Homo sapiens: one gene and its partners. The protein of the gene in region 3 interacts with the protein of the main gene of each other region in a biochemical or structural test. Each region holds a gene or a part of one and is shown on either strand. Other genes may lie near its edges.

Region 1 (6,925 bases), on a different chromosome or scaffold from region 3:
TCACATAACCACAGACTGAATCCCTTCTAAGAGAAATGGAAAATTAAGTACGTATGACAGTGACTGCAACCTTCCTGTGGACAAATAAAAACATACAGGGAAATAAAGACAGATTAGATAAGTGCTAACCAGAAATGTCTGTCCGGAGTAATAGCTTACATTCCACAGTTCTCAGGATTACTGCAAGTACCTTGCTGCCTGGCCTGAAGCTATGTATATTAAGTGCAAAATAAGTGAAGGTTTGTTGTTCCGTAGTTGTGATCCCTGGGGCAGCCAAACCAGATAATCAGGTTAACAACGACAATCTTATAGGGCCTGATTCATAAGTCTTTCAGTAAACATTTTAAGGTTTGTGCTAAATTTACAGTGCATAGAGCAACGTAGTATTTTAGAGATAATTCCTGTCTCTGGGATTTTACCATCTAATAATTATCTGGTTTTACTACCTAAGTGGCTCGAATTAAACAAATAACTGCCAAACATGCACTTCATTTTGCTTTGTAGAGTTACTATCTTAAAAAGAAATTATCCTGCAGGAATACTTGGGATGAAATAGTCTTAAACTTTCTGGGAGAAGAAAACACTGGCCATATTTTAGAGAGGTCAACGATAGCTCTTTCTCTTTCTCTTAATAGTGGTTAAAGTCATGAGTTCTGGAGCCAGATCGCCTTAGTTCTAATCCCAGCTCACCACTTTCTAGCTGTGTGGCATTAGATAAATTACTTAGCCTCTCTGTGTCATTTGAAATTGAGTATAAAAATAATACCCACCTTGTAGAGCTATTGGGAGAGTTGAATATGACAATCTTGTGTTGTCACAGTAAGTCTCAATTAATGTTACTTCATTACTTTTGTGTCTCTCCTCTACTTACAATAACAAAATCCTTTCCTGAAGTAAAGTTGTTCATTATTAACTAGAGAGAAAGAAAACTTTATAAAAAAGGAAAGTGGATTTCTTCAGCTATTGGTTGATTTAATAGTCATCATAGGGCATAAGTCATGTGTTCGGTCGGAGAAGTTAGCTTTTTTGCTGGTGAAGGTGCCTACAAGGTAATAAAAATCATGTATTTACATCATTTGGCAAGGTGTTCAACACCAGTAAGGCCCAGTGGAGAAGCAGGTTTCTCCATGAATGCCAATCGCAGTTTACGCTGTCAGTCACTTTATCAGTTGCCTTTAGATTTTCTTTCCATAAAGAGTAAAGCTAACCACGATGAGATCATTGAATAAAAGTGACTTGAGACTTTGTCGCTTTCGTCACTTTCTAGATTATAGCACTCAATGTTAATTTCAGCCATTTATACTTTCCAATAATAGACATATGAACATACTTTCTCTTTTTTCTGCAAGCCAGTTCTTATTCAACAACAGGGAAAGGAGGAGCAAAAAAGTCACTCCAGGCTGAGTAATATCTGGTCCTATCATTGTTCTAAATAAGGAAATATGGGGTGAGCCACTTTAAGGAAGATAACTTTCCTGCCAAGTAGAGGGATTTGTTTCTGGTTGCATCCTAAAGTCAAATATTAATAGTCTTCAGGATGACCCTTTCCTCTGATCTTCCCTACTGATGAAGATAATAGAAAGCTGATGAAACAGAAATAGCTGATACCTGTGTCTTCAGACAGTGGTAACGTAGGCATTACTATAAAGACTTTTGACATTTAGACTTAAAGCTTTTGAATAAGATTCATAGTTTTTGAACAAAAGCTTTATTACTGAGGCTAGTCAGTGGCTATCAGTTAGACCAAGTATTTACAACCTTACATCAAAAAAGGATGGACCAGAAAAATTTAGAAAAAAAGCGAAGTAGCTTCCAGCTAGTGTACAGTTAATATAAATTGTCAATCCACAAGCCTAGCACCCTTGCCCAAATCCATCTTAATAATAACACTTTTGTTTAAAATAGCATAAAATAAAATAGTAGCACTAGCACTCATGTCTATTCATCATTCAAGAAAAATTCATGTCCAATTCATTGCAGTCTGCTTTCTTTGTGTCCCCTGGAAGCTGCTTGCCTCCTTAGATGGGAGTGACTTAAAAGAAAAAGGGGAGGGGGGAATATACGGAGCAAGTCAAAAATCCTTTTGGCAAGAAAAATCCACAAACAATGGTGTAAAATGCATTGGAAAATAATGCTGCTGAAGTACTATGACTATGACACTCTGTAAGCTTTCAGGCACAATGAGCCAGCCTGAGCCTTCGCACTCTCACCCCATTCAAACTCCAATAAAAATGTTTTCAAGAAATGGCTCATACTTATTTATTCCTACATCCAATATAACATAAGGATGTCAAAATTTTCCATCCTCAGCTGTGTAATCTGGGCTTTTAATTTCTCCCACCAAAAGTGCATATGGCATACTCCTTCCGAGACCAAACGATTAAAGCAAAGTCTGGAAAACTTTGCACTAAGAGCCAGTCTGAGACAGACTATGCAGTCCTCATTCCTCTCATTACAGTTCCCCAGGGCAGTGGAAGCCAGGCCTGGGGAAGCCAAGGAGACTTGAGCCAATGCCTGCCGCGATTCAAGTCAGACACCCTCTGATCTCCAGTGGCTGCTGTGAAGCGGCTCCAAGTCTTAACTTCTCACCGAGGTATTTCCCCGGCAACTTTCAGAGCAGATGGACTCGGGTGTACTGTGAACCCCTGGAGTGGGTCTCAAAGACCGGGTCTCTGCTTGCTTGTCTGCTTGCATGTCAACCTCAGTGACCGAGACTCATCTTAGAACTCTCCGGGACACACAAGGGACTGACAGTAAGGAACACGCATACACAAGCACACACCCGCAGGCACAGCTTTCAGCTTGCAAGGTAACCTGTAAAAGGCACTCTCTTACCTTATACTTCATTTCGGCAGCGGTGGGTTGAGCCGTTTTCCTACACTAGTTAAGACAGCATTAAGCACTGCGGTGCCCGCCCCTCCATTGAGTGCAGCGCTAGATGAAAGCGAGAAGGTCCCGGGCAGAGCCGCTTGTCAGTCGCAGCGCCTCCCTCAAGTCTCTGAGCTCACTGTTGTGACTGAGGCAGGCTGATCGCGGACCTCATTTGCATGCCGCCCCGCCATTGGCTAGTGGGACAAGGTAATGCTCAGGCCCTGCCCACCCCTAATTCTGAAAAACTGACAAAGAACTTGTAATGTGATCGCTTCTTTTTGCTTTATCAGACGGTGGAAAATAAAACAGAAAGTGGGGAACCGTCCTGAACCTTACTCTGTCCTCCCGCCCCCGCCAAAAAAGAAGACAGAAAGAGAAAGAACAGGAAAAGGAGATACATTCTTTTTAAGATTAACCCAAATTTTAAAGAAACTGAATTCACAAAAGCAGTCTGACAGTCGCGCTTCCTGTGACCTAGCAACTCCTTCATAAACCCATTTCGTTTCAAAGCCATTCACCTCACAATCTCTACATGAAACGAACTCCGGGAACAAAAGGTTTTCTGTCTCCGGGCCCCTTTTTACTAACCACCCCTGCTGATACCTCTCTCTCTCTCTGTCCCTTTTTCTTTCCCCCTCCTCCCGCCTACTTTTTGTGTGTGTGTGACTGTTTGCTTTTTTTGTTCTTTTCAACGTTCAAAGTACTTTGCGATGTCAGTCTGCAAGGAGCTGGAAGACAATTCTCCCTTAGTGAAAAGGAACCCTCTAGCACACGCACCAGCGTTTTCCTGGACAGCTTCTCACCAGGGCCTCAGAGTTGCGGGTCACACATATTGAGCGACCTTCAGTGGCTTTGCTGAGGATAAAGGTTAGATGTGACCTCTCGGATGGGGTTGGCCAGTGCACGCCCTATACATCATCACCGTCCACTGAGTTCTGTGTTCTTTGACGGCTGGCATTTCTAGCTCCAGCTTTGAACACTGCAGTGTTTTTCCTTCTGACCTCTGTCCTGAGGATGACCCATTAACCCACCAACACTTATTATCCAGGAGAACGAAAATGCCCACTGTTTGATGAGCCTGGTTAAAAAGACCAGTCTCTCTCCAGCGAAGCACAGAACATAATTTCTATAAAGGTTCCATTTTAGGATTTCTATAGAGAAAGAGAATCACCCAGAAAACAGAAATGGTCACCTTCTGCAACTCTTCTCACGGACAGAGCAGTGAGGCGAAAAATTCCTTTTTCCCGGGCAAGACTGAGACTCGGTGAATCCAGACAATAGCTGTCCCTGAGTGGGATGCACTCCAACCAGACTACATGACTTGGATGGAAAAATCAGCCCTTATTTTTTTTTTTCCTGACCAAGTTGGATCAGAATCTGATTCCCTTCGCGTCTAACACACAAATTCCCAATGGATGAAAACTCTACTTTTATGATCTAAGCAAAAGGAATGAGAGAACAGCTGTCCTACAAAAGTGGTTTCCAGATACAGGGTTGGCAGGTTAGTTTGCAGTTCAGTGTGGCACTGATTCCAGGGACATGACCCCCCAGGCCATCCTAATGAGGTTGACATACCTGTTCCAGCCTGTATTAGGCCTTGCTTCTCCTCATTTGTCCTTAGAGCAAAAATAAGCCTGAGTGATTGTGCAAGGCCTTTCTGAACACAAATTAAGCACGCAGCATATTGCATTGTAACGATCTCCTTAAGAATCCTGCAGACTGACCGGAGAGTCGTTAGTTTGCAGGAAATTGTTTTTGGTGTCTACCTGGATAAAGGAGGACAATGATTCAAAGCCCTTCCCATCTGTAAGATGAGTCTTGCGGCCTCCAAGAGATCTAGATAACATTCCTTTGGCTTCCTAAGTGGTCAAGCTGAATCCTTTTTCTGTTTTGTTTGATGAATATCATTGAGTAAGTGAGTGCTGTCCCATCCTATTTTAATGTTTTCAAACAGTTTCCTAAAGTTTGTGCTGGGGTTTTTTTGTAATTTCATTCTCTAGCTAGTGGCCCTCCTGCTTTCCTGTTTCTGTCCTGTAAGGTAAGTAAGACACATGTAATCTACCCGAAGTTCATTTCAAGAAGGCTTGGGTCAGTATATAGTTAGCTGCCTAAAGGAAAGCACAAGGGTGTTGGAATCAGGTAAACCTGTGCTGGAACCTCAAAACATTTTTAATTTTTTTTTTTTTTTTTTTTGAGACAAAGTTTCATTCTTGTTGCCCAGGCTGGAGTGCAGTGGTGCAATATCGGCTCACTGCAATCCCCGCATCTCTGGTTCAAGCAATTCCCTCAGCCTCCCGAGTAGCTGGGATTACATGTGTCTGCCACCATACCTGGCTAATTTTTTGTATTTTTAGTAGAGACGGGGTTTCACCAGATTGGCCAGGCTGGTCTCGAACTCCTGACCTCAGGTGATCTACCTGCTTCAGTCTCCCAAAGTGCTGGGATTACAGGCGTGGGCCACTGTGCCTGGCCAGTTGAACTTCTTAATTTTGATGTCCTTCAGTATGAAATAGAGAAAATAATAATACCTGCTAGCCTCATAATGAGGATTAAATAAGATAATGTGGATAGAATTTAATAGTACTTGTTACATTGTAAGACCTTAAATGGTTGCTTGTTCTTATTACTGTTGTTATTAGTTATTATTTTAATTAATATCAGATTTATGATATTTTGTTAATATTTTATGACATTATTGCTATATTCTATAGATTATTATTTAATTATTGTATTAATTATAACTAGTATTAATATTAGACTACTGTTGATAAGTGTGGTAGGCATTCAGAAGAAGTTGGAGGAACCCCTTCTCTGTGTGCCATTCTTTCATAAGGCAGCTTTCTCACTGAACTGTTATCACTAGAGCACCTAGCATGTGCCAGGTACCTTTCTAGGAGGGGAGGATACAGCAGTAGCCCAGACAAAGTTCCCATCTTCATGGAGCTTACAGTCTAGTGAGAGTTGAGGAAAATAATTAAATGAATGTATAATATGATTTGCAGTGATAAATGCTATGAAGAAAAATTAAGCAGGGAAAATTGCTGGAGGAAAACAGACCAGGGTGGGACAGGAGGTGTATTATTTTAGATAAAGTGGTCAGGGAAGCTCCTCTGAGGAGATGATATTTAAGCAGAAATCTGAATAGTTTCAGGGATCCAGCCACTCAGAGATCTAGGGGATGAGCATTCCGGACAGAAGTGACCCAGGGGAAGGGCCCGCAGTAGGCACGAGCTTAGTGTGTCTAAGCGCAGCAAGCTGTCTAGTGTGCTTAGCGTGGGGTACACAGGGCTGGATGGAGAGGATGAGCTCAGAGAGGTAGGTGGTAGGGAGCTTGGATTTTTTTCCTGAGTGTGACATGAAGCCTCTGCAGTGTTTTGACCAGGGAGTAATCTGTTTCTCTCCGGTTTGTTAAACACTCAAGGACAGCAGGCTACTAGTTAAAATATTGAGCTCTGGTCTTAATGCAGCTTAAATAATGCAGATAGTTGTTACTTTATTAGTGTCATTTAGTATGTTGCCCTTAAAACTCTTCAGGGAAACACAAATTGTCTCAGTGAATACAGAAACAATTCCCTTCCTCATTTATTACTATCAGATGCAAAAATGATGTTTAAACTGGGCTATGTAATTGATTTATGCAGCAGCCCTAGGATTCCCATAGAGACCCTCCTGAAATTGGCTAGAACTCTGGGCCTCCGGTTCCACTTCCTGCACTTGCCAGCACTCCGGTGGGCATCCCCTCCTGTCATCCTTGCCGCCTGCCTGCTCTTCAACCAAGCACTCTTCCTTCCAGATGCTTGTGCAGGCAGGAGTGAGGGAAATGGCACCGGATGCCATTCTAATGATTTTCCAGCTGCAACTGGGCACTGGCATAAATACAGCAAAAAATCAAGAGGAGGCTAGAAAGAAGAAATACTTCTGTTGACAACTTGGAATGAACCCACGTGACTGCTCTCTAAGAGTGAAGGGCAAAGAGTGAAGAGCATGTGAGGGCAGGAAATGACTTTGGAAATCACCTAATCCAGCCACTCATAGAGAGGGCAGAGCTGTCTGT
Region 2 (7,000 bases), on a different chromosome or scaffold from region 3:
TAGTATTTTAAATTTATAGAGTACCTTTGATTTCAAGATGCTGTATAAACTTTAGTTACTTGATAATAACTTTATTGTGGAATTGCCCCTTTGCTGAAAGGTATAAACATTTCTTACATGGTGATGCACACACTCACACACACACACTCACACACTCATACACACTCTCTCTGAAGAAGAGGAAATATTTAAGCCATGAGATCTCTGCCCACAATTGATATTAAACCTTTCCACATATTATTCTTAAAACCACAATCAGTGAACTGTTTGGTATTTGTCAATGCTAAGAAGGTGGGGCTAATTTAATAATTTGATCCCAAATTTTAGATTCCTCAGGCAGTTGGGGGTTAGAATCTGATTTCATCCATCAAGCTACTTCTGTTCTTTATGACACATTAACATATGATCATTGAAATGGGCTGTATGGTAACACTATCAACTTCAACTACTGTTTCTATAACATTGATTACAAAATGTATAATGTCTATATCATTATACTTATATCTGATACAGGCTTTTCTTTCAATGGTTTGGATAGAAAAATATTCTTTACAGTAAAAACTTTGGGATAATTTTTTATACCATTATTGTTTCTGAAAACCAAAGGCTGGAAAAAGCAGTTTAGTGTAATTTCTAATATTTTAAATTCTTAGGTATGGAGAAGCAGAATAAGATTACTCCTCCAGAACATTTGTTTCAGACCTTTTTATACATTTAATGTTTTTGTATGCTGCTTCTCATGTTATTAATTTCAAAGCCCTTGGCAATAAGGAGGTTAACCTTGTCTATAATGTAAGGAAGTTTAACTTTAAAAATTTCCCTTTAGATATGCTAGCGTCTTAATCTTGTTTCACTACATATTTTATCGATTCAAGGCTTTAAAAATTGTAGCTTAATTCTATTTCACAGGTTTTTAAGTATGCCTATACATCATAATGACTTTATTTATTTATTTTTTGAGTTGGAGTTTCACTCTTGACTGGAGTTGAAGGGCTTGATCTCGGCCCACTGCAACCTCCACCTCCCGGGTTCAAGTGATTCTCCTGCCTCAGCCTCCCGAGTAGGTGGGATTACAGGCGCCCACCACCACGCCTGGCTGGTTTTTTTTGTATTTTTAGTAGAGACGGGTTTTGCCACGTTGGCCAGGCTGGTCTCAAACTCTGGACCTCAGGTGATCCGCCCGCCTTAGCCTTCCAGTGTGCTGGGATTACAGGCATGAGCCACGGCACCCGGCCCATAATGACTTTATATACTAGAGGTGTTAGTGATTTGAATGTCCCCAATTTGTTTTATTTTCTTGGTTTCTGAGGAGGAAGCCAGTGTAGTTGAGCTCCTTCCTTTTCTTTTAAATTCTGTCTTCTAGTCTGACCCTCTTCAGGCAGGCAGTAGAACATGCCAAGGTCCTTTTTGTAGTTTGGTATTCGTAATAAAGTCTGTGTATTTTAGTCATCACTTTTACTTTTTTCTTGTTGGTTGAGCTATTACTATCACAACATACTAACATCTCATTTAACATAACTCAGTTTTAAAGATAAATGAAGGGTCATGCTTAGGCATACAAGATTTTTATTTTAGCCTTTTTTTTTTTTGAGGCAGAATCTCATTCTGTTGCCCACACTGGAGTGCAGTGGCAACAGCGTGCAGTGAGCAATCCCGGCTTACTGCAGCCTTGACCTCCCGGCTCAGGTGATTTTCCCACCTTGGCTTCCCAACTGGCTGGGACTACAGGTCCATGCCACTGTGACTGGCTGATTTTTTTACCTTTTTTTTTTTTTTCCAGTACAGATGGGGTTTCTCCAGGTTGCCCAGGCTGGTCTTGAACTTCTGTGCTCAGGAGATCCTCCTGCCTCAGCCTTCCAAAGTGCTGGGATTACAGGTGTGAGCCACCATGCCTGGCCTATTTGAGCCTTTTTTGGTGAGAGTCTTAAAGACGTAATATGTCCTCCTCTTTTCAAATAGACCATACTTAGTAGAACTTAATGTTTTATTCATGACTCAGTATAATTATGAATGCCCTCGCCCCTAGCAATACTTGCCCATCTTTTAAGGCTCAACTCAAAGATTACTGTTATCCCTAGAACTTTCCCTGACCTGAGTTGAACTGTCCTCTATGACTCTAAGAAGCTCTTCTAGTACCAGACCTAACCCACTGGTAGGCGTTTATTGTTCCTATGCTTTAAGTGCCATGAAGCCAGCATCCTTGTGTGAGTATGGATTAAGACCTTTTTGGCATTTTATTTAATGAATGCTGGAGAGCTATAAATACTTCCGAATAGTTCTGCATGTGTTCTTTATGGCTAATGCATTGGGTATGAGTGGCAAGAGGTGAGGCTCTAGACAGGGACCAACCTAGTTTGGACCTTACTGTAGTTTGCCAAGATGTTCATTTTTTTTAAGGTGGGGGGAACCATTGCAGGATTTTAAGCTTTAATATATTTGCTGTTTAGACACAATCTGGGAGCAGTATGGAGGATGGACTGGAATGGGAACCATGAAGACTGGTTTTAGGATAACTGGTTAAGCAGATTCAACAGCAACCATCGTTCAGATTTTTTTGTTTGAATGTTTATTTCCAAATTTTTTATTACAAATAATTGCTGTAAACATCTTGGTGTAGGTAACTTTGATTTTTTTTTTAAGGATTCTTTTTTTTTAGGATGCTTCCATAAAAATAGTGTTACTGAGTTCAAGTGTGTGGATATTTTTAAGGTTTCATGAGTAATTTTTCCTTTAGGCTGCTTCTTACAAGAGTTGGACCTATTTAGAGCAGCAGTAAATAAAGATGTCCCTTTTTACTATTCTGTTATAAGTATAAGCTAATTGCATTTTACATTTTTTGCTAATTTCATGGCATGTGCCATTTAAACATTCGTGAAGCAGAATATTTTCCTGTCTGTTTACTAATGATATTTATTTTCATTGACTTGTTTGGCCTTGTCCTAGTTATGTTAGAGCCTTAGTGTTTTTCTTATTGATCTACCTGAGACTTACAAATATATTAACCTGTTGTCATATTTGCTACAAACATTTCCATGATGAATTATTTGTCTTTTAATATTGTTCATTGTTTGGACATGTAGAAATGTGTTATCTTAGGAGTCAAAATCTGTCCAACTTTTGTTTTGTTTTTCCTATTCTATACTTGGAAGAACTTATTCTCCAAGAAGTTTGATAAATAAGTACATTATATTTAATGTTTTTAAAAAATGGTTTAATAAACTATTTCCCCTGCAATTGCTATTTAGCCATCTTGTCATTATTTATTAACCAATTCTTCCTTTCCACAGTGATGTAGTATCTTTTCAGTTATATTAGTTATAGAGTCAGATATAGCTCTTGTTCAGTGCCATACTGTTTTTTTTATTGTAGCTTTATAATTTAGTTTAGTATTCTCACTAGGCCAGTTTTTTAAAGAGACGGAGTCTCACTCTGTCACTCAGGCTAGAGTACAGTGGCGTGATCTTGGCTCACTGGAGCCTCTGACCCCTGGGTTCAAGTGATTCTCCTGCCTCAACCTCCCTAGTAGCTGGGATTACAGGTGCATGCCACCACTCCCAGCTAATTTTTTTTTGTATTTTTTTTGGGTGGAGATGGGTTTACACCATGTTGGTCAGATTGGTCTCGAACTCCTGACCTCAAGTGATCTGCCCACCTTGGCCTCCCAATTTCTTTTCATTTGTTTTGGTAGTCTTATTTTTTTCTTCCACATAAATATTAAACTTGTTAAGTTTAATAAGAAGTTTCATTGGGGCCGGGCATGGTGGCTCACGGTTGTAATCCTTGGACTTTGGGGAGGCTGAGGATGGTGGATCATCTAAGGTCAGGAGTTTGAGACCAGCCTGGCCAACATGGTGAAACCCTGTCTCTACTAATAATACAAAAATTAGTTGAGTGTGGTGGCACATACTTGTAATCCTAGCTACTGGGGAGGCTGAGTCACAAGAATCGCTTGAACCTGGGAGGTGGAGGTTGCAGGCGAGATCATGCCACTGCACTCCAGCCTGGGCGACAGAGTGAAACTGTGTCTCCAAAAAAAAAAAAAAAAAAAAAAAAAAGACATTTCATTGGGATTGTCATTAGAATTGCTTTACTTTGGGAAAAAGAAGTATCTAAGTTTATTTAGTTTTCTCACCCAGGAACATGATATGTTTTTTACATTTATTTAAGCTTTGGCCCATATTGTTCAGGATAGCTTTATAATTTTCTTCCTGTGTTTGAATTTAATTTCAGATAATTTATATTTGTGTGATTTACGTTGTGTTTTCTAATCCTAGTTATTGCTTGTATTTAGGAATGCAGTTATATGTATTTTGCTTGATTAGAAGAATTTTGGCTGGGTGTGGTGACTCACGCCTGTTATCCCAGCACTTTGGGAGGCCAAGATGGGAGGATCACTTGAGCCCAGGAGTTCGAGACCAGCCTGGGCAACATAGTGAGACCTCATCTCTATATTTATTTATTTATTATTATTATTTTTTGATACTGAGTTTTGCTCTTGTTGCCCAGGCTGGAGTGCGATGGCGCCATCTCGGCTCACTGCAACCTCTGCCTCCTGGGTTCAAGCGATTCTCCTGCCTCAGCCTCCTGAATAGCTGGGATTATAGGCATGTGCCACCGCGCCCGGCTAATTCTGTATTTTTAGTAGAGATGGGGTTTCTCCATGTTGGTCAGGCTGGTCTCAAACTCCTGACCTCAGGTGATCCGCTTGCCTCGGCCTCCCAAAGTGCTGGGATTACAGGCATGAGCCACCGCACCCAGCTGATGGCTGGTTTTCTAGGTGTCAGTGTTTGGTACTTGTTACAGTTGAATGTTAACACTTAAAATTTTTCTTTTCTCTCGGATTTCTCTCCAACATATAAGTAGTTGAACAAAGTGAGAAATTTTATTTCATTAAAAATTTTTTAAATACGAGCAGTCTTCTGAACAAGAATAGTTTCAGACCAACTCTGTTTTAGAATAGCTTCTGATGGCATTGGCTACCTTTTTTAAAACCACATTTGATATTATATTAAAAAGTGTCAACAGATAATCTGAAGTTTGGCAGTTTGGTTTGGTTTTGTACAAAAATTGGTAGCAGACATAAAGTTTAAATTTTTAAATAAACCTCGATGATTCATTTTTAGGGAGGAATTACCACGTGGATGATTGCAATCATGCAATGTTCTTCCCATTTCTTCCCAAAAAGTTTCTTCCCAAAACATTTTCTCTTACCTCTTTGTAGCCAGTTGTCTTCTTCAATACCGAGAACTTGTCAACCACTGATCTGTTTTCGGTCACTATAATTTTGCCTTTTCTAGGATTTTGAGTAAATGGAATCATACTGTCTGCAGTCTTTTGGGTGAGGCTTCTTTTAGCGTAATGCTTTTGAGATCCATTCATGCTGGGTATCAGTACTTTGTTCCTTTTCATTCCTGAGGAATACTGCATTGTACACCAATTTGTTTATCCATTTATAAATATCTGCAGACATTTGTTGTTTCCAGTTTTTGGCCATTACGAATAAACATTTGAGTACATGGCTCTTTGTGAACATGTTTTTCTTGCCCTTGGGTAAATGAGTGGGATTGTTGCATCATACAGAAAGTATGCATTTTAACTTTTTAAAAATCTGCTGGGCGGATTGCTTGAGCCCAGGAGTTTGAGACCAGCCTGGGCAACATGGCAAAACTCCGTCTCTACAAAAAATACAGAAATTGGTCGGGTGTGGCCTGTGCCTGTAGTATCAGCTACCTGAGAAGCTGATGGAGGATTGATTGGGCCTGGGAAGTTAAGGCTGCGGTGCTGTGCTCACACCACTGCATTCTAGTGTGGGTGACTCTGTCTCAAAAAAAAAAATTTTTTTTTTTTCAAAGTTGTACCATTTTGCATTTCTACCAGCATTGTATGAGTTTCAGTAGTTCCTCATCCTAGTCAGCACTTGATACTGTCTTTGATTTTAGCCATTCTAATTGGTAGGTACAGATATTTCATGGTACTTTAATTTTTACTTCCTTAATAACCTACAGTTTTAAGCACATTTTAATGGACTTATTTATTGTCCATATAATCTTTGGTGAATATCCAAATCTTTTGTTCATGTTTTAAAATTGGATTGTTTTCTTATTGAGTTTTGAGAATTCTTTATGTATTCTGGATATAAGCCTTTTATGAGATATATACTTTGCAAATATTTTCTCCCGGACTGTAGCTCCCCCACCGCCCCCCAAAAGATGTCCCAAAGAGAAGAAGTTTTGAATGCTGATGAAACCTGTTTATCAGTGTTTTTCTTTTGTGGTTCATGTTTTTTGAGTCCTAAGTCTTTTTCTAACCCAGAGTTCTAAAGATTTTCTCTGTGTTTTCTTCTGCATTATTTATAATTTTAACTCATACATTTAAACTTATTTTCAAGTTAATTTTTTAATATGCTGTGAGAAGTAAGTGTCATGATTTTTTTTTCATATGGATATTCTATTTTTGTAGCCCTATTTGTTGAAAATACTTTTGTTTCCTCCATTGAATTGTCTTGGCACCTTGGTAGAAAATCAGTTGACAGGCCAGGTGCGGTTGCTCATGCCTATTCTTTGGGAGGCCGAGGCAGGAGGCTCACATGAGGTCAGGAGTTCTAGACCAGCCTGGCCAACATGGCAAAACCCCGTCTCTACTAAAAATAAAAAATTAGCCAGGTGTGTGGCAGGTGCCTGTCATCCCAGCTACTCGGGAGGCTGAGGCAAGAGAATCACTTGAACCCAGGAGGTGGAGGTTGCAGTGAGCTGAGATTGTGCCACTGCACTCCAGCCTGGGCGACAGAGCGAGATTCTGTCTCAAAACAAACAAACAAACAAATCAGTTGACAGTATACATAGAATTCTATTTCTGGACTCTCCTGTGTTTTCTTTATGATTCTACCCTTTAAGTTTATTTGTTTTAACACTATGCTGTCTTGATTACTATAGCTTTAAAATAAAGCAGCTTTCAAACAAATTGAGTCTTTGATTTAGGATCTTGTAGTGCTTTGGAGCGG
Region 3 (7,000 bases):
GGCCTAGCTCATCTCTGAGGAGCCCTGCCTGCTCTGCTGTCCAGAGTCACCTGGAGTTGGGTCCCCTGATGTAGGCAGCACCCATAACTGACCTGTACTCCGCTCCCCAGCCTTTGACGAAGCTCATGCGGATGGTGCACATTCGGGTCAACTGGTAGACAGCCTCAAAGCCCTGGTTGACCGACTGGGCCAGGAGGGCAGCGAACTCCTGGTTGTTGAAGATCTTCAGGTTGCATCCTGCCAAAAACACAGAAACAGGGCTGTGGGGATGGAAGTGGCCAGGTCCGTTGCTCCCCTCCTGGATAAAGCAAGTCCTGGACCCCCTAGACCAGCCTCATTTATACAGCTCCAGGGACACATGGTGTGTGATGCATTTGCCACACACTCCACACTCAGTACCATGCAAAGGGAAGGCCAACCCAGTCCCTCCCCTTGAACCCATCTCCTCACTGGGAGGTGCCACTGACATACCTGCAAGGGGAGATGGAAGGCTGGCCCACAAGCTCCGACTCCCAGAGCAGGGAGAAGTCTGCAAAGAGGGCTTCCAAAAATAGGGAGATGGTGTGGAGAGGGGGGCCTTTCCTTGGGCAAAGGGACCAGGGGACAGAGAGATAAGGGACCTGGGCCAGGTTGCCCATGCTGTGTGGGGTCTGGTCACCCACCTAGGAACAGGAGCTCTGGCCGTTCCACAGCAGGCAGTGCCCCCAGAGACGGGCTGGCCGAAAGGCTACTGGGCCTGCCGTCCCCACAGGAAGCTTGGCAGAGGGCCCAGTGCACCCTCCACCTGGGCTCCTCTGATGAATACACCTGGTGCTGGGGCTAGGAGGTAAGGAGAGATCTGGGCCAAATTTTGGCCTCTGGGCACTGGGCTGGGTGGAGGTGACATTCACAGCTAAGTGAAGGTGTGCATCTGATTCTCCAGACAGTAAAACTAAAGACAGTCACAAATAAAGTTTAAAATAAATGTCGTTTGAAGTCTTACTGCCTGAGTGCCAGGAATGTGTCAACCAGAAAAATAAAGACAAAAGCACATGCTGGAAATAGCCAAAAGGTGAGCCGGGGTGACGCTTATGAATGAGCCAACAGCAGGCTCCTGTTCTTGCTGTGTGACTCTGAGCTGGTCGCTTTCTCTTGGGGACCCTGTGTCTCTGTATAATGAAGGGCTGGCCTCAGAGGTCCTTCCAGCTCTGACATTCTATGAGCTGACAAACAACACCACAGCCAACTCAGCCCTCACCCAAAAGATGGGGGTGGGGCCGGGGAATGGAAGAGGCAGAAGGCCAAGAGCGTCACTGAGCTTCCTCTTCTTCATTCTCTCCAAGGACAAGGGTGGTGGAACAGGGCTGAACCTGGGCCCTGACCCCCAGCAGAGCCAAGAAGCAGAAGAGCACCAAACTTGAGAGTCCATCAGCCCTAGGCCCCATCCCGGCTTGGCCACTTACTAGCTGTGTGCGCTTGGGCAGGTGGCTGAAACTCTCTGAACTTGTCTCTCAAAGCGTCTCCTTACTTATAGAGCCAGAGAATAACTGGTGAGGACTAAATGAGGTCAACGATCGGAATGTACTCTATAAATGCAACCACAAAATGCTCTGGAAACCTGGTGTGCTATTATCATTTCAGACTTTCTGCATTCTAAAGTTTCCCCTGCCTGTGGTCTACCACTTCTCCACTACCATCTGCTACTCAGTGGGCAGGAAGGGGCATGCCACACACGTGCCACAGGCAATGGCCTGGCCAGGTTACCTGCTCCACTAGTCTGTCACAGGCCATGTTCTGTGGGCTGCCTACACAGTGGCTGCACGTCCTGTGAAAAGTGGACTTTGGCTGGGGCTTTCTGCCTTGGTTTCCTGAGGAAAGAGGCCTTAGATGGGATCAGCCACCTGCCTGATCTTGCTGTCCAGGCGTGGCCCTGTCCAAACCACTCTCGGGGGTGCAGCCTGACACCTCTTCTTGGGGTACAGGTGGGATTTTTCAGGCTCACTCAGAAAACCCTCAGCAGTTCCCTAGAGTCAAACTCTCTGGTGTCCTTCCACGGCCTCATGCTGTTGTGCTTTTGAAACATTTCCCCTGACGGTCTCATACATGACCCTCCTCCAGCCAGAGAGCTACCCATCCATGTCCTGCCCTCCATTACCTCAGGCCCTTTGCCTGGGCTGCTCCCCCTGTCTAGAATGCCCTCCCTGTGCCTAGTGCCTACCTATCCTTCAGGATCCGGATGTTTCTCCTCCATGAAGACTTCCCTGATCCATCCCAACAGCTAAATGGGCCTTCTCTCTACCTGGGCTGCTGGCTTGGTGCTTGGCACCCGTCCCTTATATTGAACTCATCCGTGTCTTTGTCTTCTGTGCTCTGCAGGCCTGTAAGGTCTGCGGGGGCAGAGCAGGGCCGCATCTACCTCTTCATCCCCTACAGCACCTGGCACAGAGCCCTGCATGCTGTTTGTGCAATGAATGAGTGAAGAAAGGAAGCCATACTGCCTGAGCATCTACGCACAGGGCAACAGGCAGGTACCCACAGGTTAAAGGCAGACCTATCAGATGCTACATCTGCTCCCTGGAAGTTCAGGGAAAGCACAGTTAGATCTGTGGGCATAGAGAAAACCTAATCCAATCACCTCCAGATTGACAACGCAATCATGAGTGAGCAGAAAAGGTGAGAAAGGTGGACTCTCTCCAGCATCCTAGGCATGCACTCGGAGAGGGACCTCAAGGCAGGGGTGCCTGTGCGGCTCGTTTACCTGGTGGGATCTTGCAGACGGTGGCCGGGTGCCAGCCATAGCGCTGGTTACAGTTGGGAGACTGGACAAAAATAGCGCTGTCACTGAGGCACTCTGCGAAGACCTCCCCTCCGATGTAGTAGAGCCGCACGCCTCTTCCTACAGAGATTCAGGTTAGACTGGACAGGGTGCCTTTGCTCACACACAATGGCCCTGGGGCCACCTGAGGCTCGCAAAGGAGGCAGAACAGCAGAGCTGCTCCCAGTGACTGCCAGCTTCCCCAGGCAAACGGGCCCCAAAGCCCAAGCCTAAAGTAGGGGAAATGGGCACTGCCGGATTCCTAAAGCCAAGGGAGGCAGATGACAAGAGATGGGCACACAGGATAGGTCTCAGTGACAGCCTTTGCCACTGAGTAGGCATGGGCCTCAGTCAAGTTATTCACCCTCTGAGTCTTCGTTTGTCTCTACGATAGGGATGGGGGCCAGGCGCGGTGGCTCACACCAATAATCCCAGAGCTTTAGGAGGGCAAGGTGGGAGGATCACTTGAGGCCAGGAGTTCAAGGCCAGCCTGGGCAATGTAATGAGACTTCATCTCTACAAAAACATTTTTTTTTTAATTAACTGGGCATAGTGGCATATCCTTGTAGTCCTAGCTGCTTGGGAGGCTGAGGTGAGTGGATTGCTTGAGCCCAGGGGTTCAAGACTGCCGTGAGCTCCCATCACACCACTGCACTCCAGCCTGGGAGACAGAGTGAGACCCTAACTCCAAAAAAAAAAAAAAAAAGGGAATGATGATAACCTCTACCCTTGCAGGATTACTGTGAGACACACAGTAAGTGCCTGGTGTCAGCTTTTCTTGCTGCTACTGCTACTACTACCCCACTATTATTTGGTCTCTTCACACTCCAAGATTCAGAGATTCATTCAGTAAACCTGCAGGGCTCCTTCTGATGCAGCAGACACCCCAAGGAGCCCTTTATTGCAGGGATGGTTTAACGCTATGCCCTTATTTTTTTCTTCCCTCAATGCATTTTTCTAAAACATTCCAGAGGTTTATATCATTTACTTTTCTTTCATCTCTTAAATCCACTCCAGATGGACAGAAATTATTTTTAAATTGGCTCTGCAACTCAAACAGTTGCGTAAACTCTGACAATGAGCTCTTTGCTCGGCCAGGGGATGGTCCCTTCTCCTGCATGGCAAAGTCTCTGCTCCATTCCTGGGGAAGAAGCTCAGAGGTCAGAACACGGAGCCAGATATTACAGGCCCAGCATCCGGTAGGATGAACACGAGGTGACCGACCCATGCATCACTGGATGTCCCCTGTCCTGCCTCCTATTCCCACTACTGTCCCCTTCCTCCAACCACTCCCCATTTTTTCTGGCTTTAGTTCTGCAGGGTGCTGGTGGCTCAGAGTCCACAGGAGGGATGACTTCCTGGCTGTCCACAACTGTATCATGTCAGTAAGAGCAGAAGGCAGAGGTGGGGATGCGAAGACCCAGACCAAAAATGTTTGTTTCGTTTCAGTAACTTAAAAAAATAGGCCGGGCATGGTGGCTCACACCTGTAATCCCAGTACCTTGGGAGGCTGAGGCGGGCAGATCACCTGAGGTCAGGAGTTCGAGACTAGCCTGGCCAACGTGGTGAATCCCCATATCTACTAAAAATACAAAAAATTAGCCAGGTGTGGTGGCACATGCCTGTAATCCCAGCTACTCAGGAGGCTGAAGCAGGAGAATCACTTGAACCTGGGAGGTGGAGGTTGCAGTGAGCCAAGATTGTGCCATCGCACTCCAGCCTGGGAGACAAGAGCGAGACTTGGTCTCCCCGCTCCAAAAAAAAAAAAAAAAAAAATATATATATATATATATATATATATATATATTTTTTTTTTTTTTTAATAAAATATAGAAAAAAGCCAGTTGCAGTGGTATATGCCTATTGTCCCAGCTAATCAGGAGGCTGAGATGGGAGGATAGCTTGAGCCCAAGAGTTTGCGACTGGGCCTGGGCAACATAGCAAGACCCTATCTCTAAATCAATCAATCAATCAAACAGTGGTATGCCACCCAGAATAAGTATCTTTTTTGAAGTAAAAAACAAAAAGCGAAATGGGAACAACAGGTCTGGTAGTGGTGGCTGTCTGTCACTGACAATGAGGTCTCTGCAGAGCCGTTCCCTACCCTCCCCAACCCCCTAGACATCAGGTCCCTTTCCTAGAAAATGAGAGCACAGACCTAGGCCCATGGCCTCCAAACTTTTCTTCTCTTCACTACAGAATCAATCCTCTCTTCAAATGAAGTCTTCTGTGAGAGCCCGAGATATAAAGCAAGCGAGTGCAGAGGTGCCCTGGTTCACGTGGGACCAGGCTTCCCTTTGCTAACCTGCCCACCTCCTGAGTTTGCCGCAGGAACCCTTTGCCAACCCTTGGGGCTCCAGGACAAGGTCTGAGAAAACCTCACTCTGCCATCTCTCTACAGCCCTTCTAAGTTCTGACAGTTGTGATTCTGGATCGTAAAATCCTCTAAGCTTGATAACTTCATAAGCAAACCAAGTGATGCGTAACACAGCTTCATCTTCCTTAAACTCACAAAGTCATCTTTTACTTATGTTCTGGGGGCTAGAAGGCAGAAGGTTCACAGTAGTGGTGTTTGGATAGTGGACAATTCTTTTCTACCTTTTCTAAATTGTTTAGAATAATGATACATGAAAATAAGAGAAGATCACTCTTCCAACAATGACTGCCTACTTATCAACCTATCCATCTGTACTTTCAGAGTATTTTTATTTAGAGGATTTCAGCCAGGCACGGTGGCTCACGCCTGTAATCCCAGCACTTTGGGAGGCCAAGGCAGGTGGATCACCTGAGGTCAGGAGTTCGAGACCAGCCTGGCCAACATGGAGAAACCCCGTCTCTACTAAAAACACAAAAATTAGCTGGGCGTGGTGGTTGGGTGCCTGTAATCCCAGCTACTTGGGAAGCTGAGGCAGGAGAATCGCTTGAACCCAGGAGGCAGAGGTTGCAGTGAGGCAAGATTGTGCCATTGCACTCCAGCCTGGATAAAGCAAGACTCTGTCTCCAAAAAAAAAAAAAAAATAGATTTCATATGTTGCCTTTCTCATAGACGTTCCCTTCTTGATCCCTTAGATGAACTATTTTCCTCTGTGGCTTCCAGATTTTCTGAGATTATATCTTTGAGTGGGAATGATCAAGTGGCCTGAACACTACCTGTCTGGCCCCTAAACAGGGCAACAGAGAGTGTAGGGGACTTGCTGGGGCAGTGAGTCTTCCCCCATGCCCAGCAGGAGGCAGAGCACAGCTAAGGATGGACGCAAGGTTCCCTTCAGAGGCTGTGTGTTCAGGCCTGGGGCTGGGGGTGGGATAGAGTGGCAGGGGCAGGGTGGGGGGGCGGGGAATGGAGCCACCCCATACCGATGTGTCTCCGTGTCAGCTCCACTGCTGCATTCCTGTTGACATTGGAGAGCAGCCCTAGGCAGAAGCGCTCCGAATTGGAGGGGTCGGTGAAGCCATCCACAGTCATGGATGGCTGCGAGGCGTGGAATGTCTCCCCGACGCGCTGGTTCAGCTCGTAGTAGGAGATGGAGCACCAGAAGGCCGGCTCGCAGTAGGTAACTGGCTGCAGGTCTGTGGACACAGGGTGGGCTACTGGGTCATTGGGTGTCCCAAGCCCCATGCTCCCTCGATGGGGTCCCATGGACACTCTGGAAAACCATTTCCCCGCATTTCAGAGGGATTATAATCTCCCTACCCCATGCCTTTTATCGTATAAAACTGGCAAGAGCCACCAGAACAAGATGCTCAGGTGTCTGGAGGAGATTCCATCAGCCTTGTGTGTAAAGGGCCATTGATTTCTCTTTTTATTTATTTATTTATTTATTTATTTATTTATTTAGCTCATAAAGGCCCTGCCCCGCCTGCTTGGCCTTGACTGGATGGAAGGAGTCTTCAAGGAGGGGCTGGGCCAAACCTGAAGAGGACCAGGGGCCACCCAGTACCTGGATGAACCTGGGACAGCCACTGCGTGTACTCACTGTGGGGCAGGCCACACCTCCTGCACAGTCACCTCTCAGCCTCTGTTGCAAGGTCCCCAGAGTAACCCACATTAATCCCTGCCCCTAAAAGGGCTTTCAGATTTTGGCTCTGCACAGCCTTGGGGGCAAAAACTCCCAGCCTGTGGAGCAGCAGCTTCCAAGCCTGCAGCAGCCGAGTGGGTTCCCAACAGCGCCCCATGTTGGCGCAGTGGACACACCAGGCATCATCTGC

The links. The genes of interacting proteins can lie anywhere in the genome.
Region 1: the proteins of SMAD3 (region 3) and NEDD9 form a complex in vitro, tested with the Homo sapiens proteins (2 studies listed by BioGRID).
Region 2: the proteins of SMAD3 (region 3) and SMURF2 form a complex in vitro, tested with the Homo sapiens proteins (2 studies listed by BioGRID and IntAct, with this or other methods).

What each region holds. Positions count from the first base shown.
Region 1 is NC_000006.12:11,229,669-11,236,593, forward strand, and holds the start of NEDD9 (enhancer of filamentation 1), read right to left. Parts: upstream 3,001-6,925; 5' UTR 2,848-3,000; coding exon 2,836-2,847; intron 1,043-2,835; exon of another isoform or gene 771-1,042; intron 1-770. UniProt on the Homo sapiens protein: Scaffolding protein which plays a central coordinating role for tyrosine-kinase-based signaling related to cell adhesion. As a focal adhesion protein, plays a role in embryonic fibroblast migration.
Region 2 is NC_000017.11:64,652,308-64,659,307, reverse strand, and holds part of SMURF2 (E3 ubiquitin-protein ligase SMURF2), read left to right. Parts: intron 1-7,000. UniProt on the Homo sapiens protein: E3 ubiquitin-protein ligase which accepts ubiquitin from an E2 ubiquitin-conjugating enzyme in the form of a thioester and then directly transfers the ubiquitin to targeted substrates.
Region 3 is NC_000015.10:67,180,602-67,187,601, reverse strand, and holds part of SMAD3 (mothers against decapentaplegic homolog 3), read right to left. Parts: intron 6,362-7,000; coding exon 6,149-6,361; intron 2,876-6,148; coding exon 2,738-2,875; intron 583-2,737; coding exon of another isoform or gene 472-582; intron 238-471; coding exon 93-237; intron 1-92. UniProt on the Homo sapiens protein: Receptor-regulated SMAD (R-SMAD) that is an intracellular signal transducer and transcriptional modulator activated by TGF-beta (transforming growth factor) and activin type 1 receptor kinases.